Linked DNA regions of Homo sapiens. The protein of the gene in region 1 purifies or fractionates together with the protein of each later gene. This does not show direct contact. Each region holds a gene or a part of one and is shown in the gene's direction. Other genes may lie near its edges.

Evidence for each region.
Region 2: the proteins of C15orf40 (region 1) and KLHL36 purify together in Homo sapiens (affinity purification with mass spectrometry; one large-scale study listed by BioGRID and IntAct). This does not show direct contact.

Annotation. Positions count from the first base shown.
Region 1 is NC_000015.10:82,994,559-82,998,374, reverse strand, and holds the end of C15orf40 (UPF0235 protein C15orf40), read left to right. Parts: 3' UTR 1-3,558; downstream 3,559-3,816.
Region 2 is NC_000016.10:84,651,195-84,655,010, forward strand, and holds part of KLHL36 (kelch-like protein 36), read left to right. Parts: intron 1-3,816.

The DNA of each region.
Region 1 (3,816 bases):
ATCTGAGAAGTGAGGAGCCTCTCCGCCCGGCAGCCACCCCATCTGGGAAGTGAGGAGCGTCTCCGCCCGGCAGCCACCCCGTCCGGGAGGGAGGTGGGGGGGGGTCAGTCCCCCGCCCGGCCAGCCACCCCATCCGGGAGGGAGGTGGGGGGGTCAGCCCCCCGCCTGGCCAGCCGTGCCGTCCGGGAGGGAGGTGGGGGGTCAGCCCCCCGCCCGGCCAGCCGCCCCGTCCGGGAGGTGAGGGGCGCCTCTGCCCGGCCGCCCCTACTGGGAAGTGAGGAGCCCCTCAGCCCGGCCAGCCACCCCGTCCGGGAGGGAGATGGGGGGTCAGCCGCCCCGTCCGGGAGGGAGGTGGGGGGGTCAGCCCCCCGCCTGGCCAGCCGCCCCGTCCGGGAGGGAGGTGGGGGGGTCAGCCCTCCGCCCGGCCAGCCGCCCCGTCTGGGAGGTGAGGGGCGCCTCTGCCCGGCCGCCCCTACTGGGAAGTGAGGAGCCCCTCTGCCCGGCCAGCCGCCCCGTCCGGGAGGGAGGTGGGGGGGGGTCAGCCCCCCTGCCCTGCCAGCCGCCCCGTCTGGGAGGTGAGGGGCGCCTCTGCCCGGCCGCCCCTACTGGGAAGTGAGGAGCCCCTCTGCCCGGCCACCACCCCGTCTGGGAGGTGTGCCCAACAGCTCATTGAGAACGGGCCAGGATGACAATGGCGGCTTTGTGGAATAGAAAGGCGGGAAAGGTGGGGAAAAGATTGAGAGATCGGATGGTTGCTGTGTCTGTGTGGAAAGAAGTAGACATGGGAGACTTTTCATTTTGTTCTGCACTAAGAAAAATTCCTCTGCCTTGGGATCCTGTTGATCTGTGACCTTGCCCCCAACCCTGTGCTCTCTGAAACATGCGCTGTGTCCACTCAGGGTTAAATGGATTAAGGGCGGTGCAAGATGTGCTTTGTTAAACAGATGCTTGAAGGCAGCATGCTCGTTAAGAGTCATCACCACTCCCTAATCTCAAGTAATCAGGGACACAAACACTGCGGAAGGCCGCAGGGTCCTCTGCCTAGGAAAACCAGAGACCTTTGTTCACTTGTTTATCTGCTGACCTTCCCTGCCAAATCCCCCTCTGTGAGAAACACCCAAGAATTATCAATAAAAAAATAAATTAAAAAAAAATAAAAATAAATAAATAAAAATGAAAAACAAAAGCATAATAGAAATAAAGACCATGTTGGAAACAGTGCAACAGAGAAGAGGCTGAAAACGGTATGAAATTTAGAAGGCAAGATAGAGAACAGTGAATAAAGACAGGAAAATAACAGCTATAGAAGTCAGTTAAAAATAATAATAATAATTATTATTATTATTATTATTATTTGAGACGAAGTTTCGCTCTTGTTGCCTAGGCTGGAGTGCAGTGGTTCAATCTTGGCTCACTGCAACCTCCGCCTCCCAGGTTCAAGCGATTCTCCTGCCTCAGCCTTCCAAGTAGCTGGGATTACAGGCCTGAGCCACCATGCCTGGCTAAATTTTTTTCTTGTTGTTGTATTTTTAGTAGAGACGGGGTTTCACCATGTTGGCCAGGCTGGTCTCAGACTCCTGACCTCAGGCGATCCATCCGCCTTGGCCTCCCAAATTACTGGGATTACAGGCGTGAACCACTGCATCCAGCCAAAATTATTCATTTTTGTATTGTTTCACTTTTTATATTTTTTATTTTATTTTATTATTTTATTTTATTTTAATTTTATTTTGAGACGGAGTCTCACTCTGTCACCCAGGCTGGAGTGCAGTGTCGCAGTCTCGGCCTACTGCAAGTTCTGCGTCCTGGGTTCACGCCATTCTCCTGCCTCAGCCTCCTGAGTAGCTGGGACTGCAGGTGCCCGCCACCACGCCCGGCTAATTTCTTTTTGTATTTTTAGTAGAGACGGGGTTTCACCGTGTTAGCCAGAATGGTCTCGATCTCCTGACCTCGTGATCCGCCTGCCTCGGCCTCCCAAAGTACTGGGATTACAGGCGTGAGCCACCGCGCCAGCTTTATTATTTTGTAAACACACAAGTTGAGGAAATTTTAAAATGAGAAAAATACACACACAAACAACAAAGCTCTAGCCATTAGCAATTAGAACAGCTTTATTTACCTAATTCAGACAAAGAGACTGGAGATTCTTTAGGGAGTTAAAGGCACGAGCAGTGGAAAAAAACCATGAGATCATCATCACATCATCCCCTGAAGCTGTCTCAGGAGGAGTCACTGAAACCCAGAGAAAATCTAACTGGTAATTAATACATAGGGCTCTCGTGTCCCTGAGGGAAAGGAGTGAAAACACCAACTGAATTAGCCCATACATGGGGCTGTCTGTGCCCTTTAGGGAGAGGAGTGAAAACAACTGAAATCAGCCCATCAGCCCATGAAGACACTGGTGAAAATTATGCGACTTGTCCTTCTTGCACCTAAGCAGCCCACAGATAACTCACTCTTATATACGAACCTGACTGACTGGGTAGCCATTATGTGCCTAGCTTAGTGCTGCATGCTTTATGCTCTCTCTTAATCCTGCAATGGGGCAGTCGAATCACATATTAGCTGTTTTTGTTGCCTGTTTGTTTTTGAGACGGAGTCTCGCTCGGTCACCCAGGCTGGAGTGCAGTGGTGCAATCTTGGCTCACTGCAACCTCCGCCTCCTGGGTTCAAGCGATTCTCCTGCCTCAGCCTCCGGAGTAGCTGGGATTACAGTCATGTACCACCACACCCAGCTAATTTTTGTATTTTTAGTAGAGATGGGGTTTTGCCATGTTGGCCAGGCTGGTCTGGAACTCCTGACCTCAGGTGATCCTTCCACCTTGGCCTCCCAAAGTGATGGGATTACAGGCGTGAGCCACCGTGCCTGGCCAGCTGTTCTGACTGAAGACTTGTCTTCTTCGTTAACCTGCTCCTCCTGTTTCATCCTGCAAATGTTTAAATCTGAGGGGTATTATCCACAGCTCATCTCCACTTTTCTAATCTGACAGCACTGATAATTGAATTCCTCAGAAGCAAGATGTTTCTCTGGCACCCAGAGGCCTCAGCAGTGTCACGACAGCTGAAGTGTCACTTATTCCTCATCCTGGGCACACCATGATGGAGTGCAGCCCCACTGATTGGGACCCATGCAGCCAGCCTGGCCCAGGGCCACTCTCTCTCCCAGAATGTGCACAAGTCAAGGGATCTCTACTTCCATCCTTATTTTCCTCAAAAGCTGGTGCCAGCAGTAATCAACCAGACTTCTAGAAAAGAGGAGATAATCTGCTCTCAAGGCTGCTGTGGGCTCCAGTGTTGTAATCTACTACTTGAATCTAGTTGTTTATTTCATTCTATAATAATTTAATACAGCAGATGTCAGGAGAAATCTTTGTTTAGATATTATGTCATATCTGGATATATCTGAATCCTGAATGATTAATCTAAATATTAACAATATTCACTTCTGCCAATGTCAAGAGTATTTTCTGCTACTGGGCTTAAATCAATTTTAAAATTTGAGAGTTTTAAAAGCATATCTTTCTGTGTTCATAAATAAACAGAACGAAGATTCTTTGAGTACCTTATATAATTTTTCACACAGAATTAACCAAAGCCTTATTTAATATTTCAAAATCCTCATTTATATATATTAAATATGTGTCTCTGGTTAAAATGCAAGATACTGAAAGAAAAATTCAAATAGGCATTTCAGTGAATAGTTTACATATAATATCTAATTTGTCTGACATTACAAAGTAAGTACTTTCACAACTAACATTTCCAGCTAACTAAAGTCCAATAATAATAGAGGCCACCTTAAACTGGGAGTATTTA
Region 2 (3,816 bases), on another chromosome or scaffold:
GACTCATTCGTTAACCCAAGGAGGTGGATGGGACAGGAAGAAAACTGGGATTCCCATGCCTGCTTGGGGGCTCAAAAACTCCAAGGACAGGTCCATTGAGAACCCAGCCTTCTACCTTAGGGTGAGGGCAACACACCGTGTACCCGGACCCCAAGGGCCTGGAGTCGTCTTCCCTGGTCATGATTCCCTGCGACCTAAGAGCAAGTGAGGGCAAGTTCCCCAGAGCCAGGCTACTGGGGGAGTTCTAATTAGAAATATGTAGCCTGTTCCCACCAGCCACATTAAAATCCAAGAGCCAGACCCGGCTGCTATACTTTCCACAAACTCCTGTCCCCACAGCTGCTGTTGGTAAAGAGTGGGGGAGCCATTGGTATGAGGTTCCTGGTAACCTGTTTCCCCGTTATAAATATTCGTAATGCCCTCTGTTCTTTAGAGGTATCCCTTTTGGAGATTAAATCTTATGGTTACCTCAGATCATGGATTCTCAATGAGTATGATATTGCCCTGAAGTGGGAGAAAATTGGTTCTCGGGAGGGTGGAAGGAATTTTACTCCTTTTATGCATAAGACACAATTATACATACAGTACATGAGCAGACATACAGTGCATCTGTGATGTTAAGATTTTGCTGGGGAGGCTATTAGGGAAAAAAATCTTAAAAGCCTTCTTGTGGGGCAATAATGAAAAAAGATACAGAAACACTTCTTTAGATGAAGGGAGCTGGCAGCAGCCTATAGAGTTGAGAAAAAGGGGGAAAGAGATTCTACAGATTCTAAAAGAAAAACTGGCTGTCATTTTCAAGAGAGGTTGGCTCTCTTGAGATATGACCTCCTGTTCTCACGTGAGTTCCCCAAGAAGGTTCCTGCCAAGCCCAGCTTTATCGATTGTGAAAACCCAGAGAGGTCTCGCCGCTCGCTCACAAGGGCTTTGTTTGGGAGCTTAGCTTGGGAGACACTGCTGCTTTCTAAGTTTGACAGCACTGGAAGTCTTTGTCCATTAATGCCAGGACCCTGAGTTTGTTTCTGTCTGAACTGAATCTCTTAGGACTAGGCTTCTGTATCACTGGATGATGTTTCTAACTTTTTTTTTTTTTCGAGACAGGGTCTTGCTCTGTCACTTAGGTTGGAGTACAGTGGTGCGATCATAGCTCACTGCAGCCTCTACCTCCTGGGCTCAAGTGAGCCTCCCACCTCAGCCTCCTGAGGAGCTGGGAATACAGGTGCATGCCACCATGCCCAGCTAATTTTTGTATTTTTAGTAGAGACGGGGTTTCACCATGTTGGCCAGGATGGTCTTGATCTCTTGACCTCGTGACCCGCCAGCCTTGGCCTCCCAAAGTGCTGGGATTACAGGCGCGAGCCACCATGACTGGCCTGTTTCTAACTTTTTATTTTTAAAAAGTGTACCCATTAATTTCTAGACATTAAACACACCTATGTTGCCAGCACCCAGATGGGTAAAAAACAGAATACTACCAAACCCTCCCAGTTGTTACACTCAAGATAGTCGCTGTCCCAACCCCACCGCTGTGGTTTGATCTGCTTTTGAACTTTGTCTAAACGGGATCCGAGGTCGGGTACTCTTGTGTGTGGTTTCTTTTGTGCAACATTGTGCCTCTGAGCCTCACCCGTGTTGCTGCATGTAGTTGGTAGTGGTAGGTTTTGCTTTCTCAGCATGTTGGTGTCTTCCCACTGTGTGGCCACAGTGTCTGTTCACCTGTCTGCCCTAAGATGTGTTGCTCAGCCAGGCACAGTGGCTCACGCCTGTAATCCCAGCACCCTGGGAGGCCGAGGCGGGAGGATCTCGTAAGCTCGGAGTTTGAGACCAGCTTGGACAACACGGCTAAACCTCATCTCTACAAAAGATACAAAAATTAGCCGAGCCTGGTGGCATACACCTGTAGTCCCAGCTCCTCAGGAGGCCGAGGTGGGAGGCTCACTTGAGCCCAGGAGGTAGAGGTTGCAGTGAGCTATGATCGCACCACTGTACTCCAACCTAAGTGACAGAGCGAGACCCTGTCTCAAAAAAAAAAAGTGTTGTTCCTTTTTGATGCTAAATTCTTTTTCCACGTCTAATACCTGGTACCTGCCGCCTCCTCCCAGGTGTAAGCCCCCGACAACCTGAGTTTCTCCCTCTACTTGGCCTTGCATCTGATTAAGGCACTGAAATAGGAAATAAAGAAATGAACAAGACTCATATCATCAGAGAATGCTGTGGATTGGAGCTTCTAAGTTACCTGAAATGCGGAAACTCTGTTACCAATGTCCCTTTATAATTGGGAAATAGGCCAGGCGCAGTGGCTCACGCCTGGAATCCTAGAACTTTGGGAGGCTGAGGTGGATGGATCACTTGAAGTCAGGAGTTCGAGGCCAACATGGTGAAACCCCGTCTCTACTGATATATGTATATATGCCGGGAGTGGTGGCACCTGAGGTCAGGAGTTTAAGACCAGCCTGGCCAAAATGGCAAAACCCTGTCTCTACTAAAAAGACAAAATTAGCTGGGCATGGTGGTACATGCCGGTAGTCCCAGCTACTCAGGAGGCTGAGGCAGGAGAATCGCCTGAACCTGGGAGGCGGAGGTTGCAGTGAGCCGAGATCGAGCCACTGCACTCCAGCCTGGGCAACAGAGGGAGGCTCTGTATCCAAAAAAAAAAAAAAAAAAAGGGAACTCGTGTGCCTGTGTTTTTGGAAAGTTGTCTATGCAGCTGTGCTAAAACACCAGAAGCAGATTGCAGCTGATTGTACCCGGGTACAGCATCACTCCAGCCCACTTAGAGCAGAAACCCAGTTTTGGAAACAACACTGCTCTTGCCCCCTGCCCCAGCTCACTGGAGCTGGTGTCTCCCCTCGGCAGCCGTTCACTGGGGCTTTCCCCAGTCCTGCCCCCTGGGCTCTTTCCCTTTTGACACTGCAGTCTGGGGTTGTGTGTATCTCCGTCTAAGCATGGTAGGGCCAGCACCCTCACCAGCGTGGAGACAGCCAGGGTCCCCGGGTGGCAGATAGCCGCCTCATGCCCTCATATGCGTCTCTCAGGCCGCTAAGCCTGTACTATGACTTGATCACCGCCACTGTAGTACTTTTTAATTTCCTTCCTTCAGCTCACACCCAAGAGGGGCCTCCAGTCAATGTCTGTAGAAGCACTGACCATTCCTGCATAATTAGAAGCTGAGGCCTAGCACGGTGGCTTATACCTGTAATCCCAGCACATTGGGAGGCTGAGGCAGGAGGATCGTTTGAACTCAGGAGCTGAAGACCAGCCTGGGCAATGTAGTGAGACCCCATTTCTACAAAAAATAAAAGTAAAAAATAGCTGGATATGGTGGCACACACCTGTAGTCCCAGCTGCCAAGGAAGCTGAAGTGGAGGGATTGCTTGAGACTAGTTTTGTTTTGTTTTGTTTTGTTTTGTTTTGTTTTGTTTTGTTTTGTTTTGTTTTGTTTTTGAGATGGCGTTTTGTTCGTGTTGCCCAGGCTGGAGTGCAGTGGCTCACTGCAACCTCCGCCTCCGGAGTGCAAGTGATTCTCCTGCGTCAGCCTCCTGAGTAGCTAGGATGACAGGCGCCCGCCACCACAACCAGCTAATTTTGTATTTTTACTAGAGACGGGGTTTCACCATGTTGGTCAGGCTGGTCTCGAACTCCTGACCTCAGGTGACCTGCCCACCTCGGCCTCCCAAAGTACTGGGATTCCAGGCATGAGCCACCACGCCCGGCTGAGCCTAGGAGTTTCAGGCCGCAGTGATCTCTGATCTACTGTTGCATGCCAGCCTGGGAAACAGAGCAAGACCCTGTTTCTAAAAATGAGAAAAAATTTAA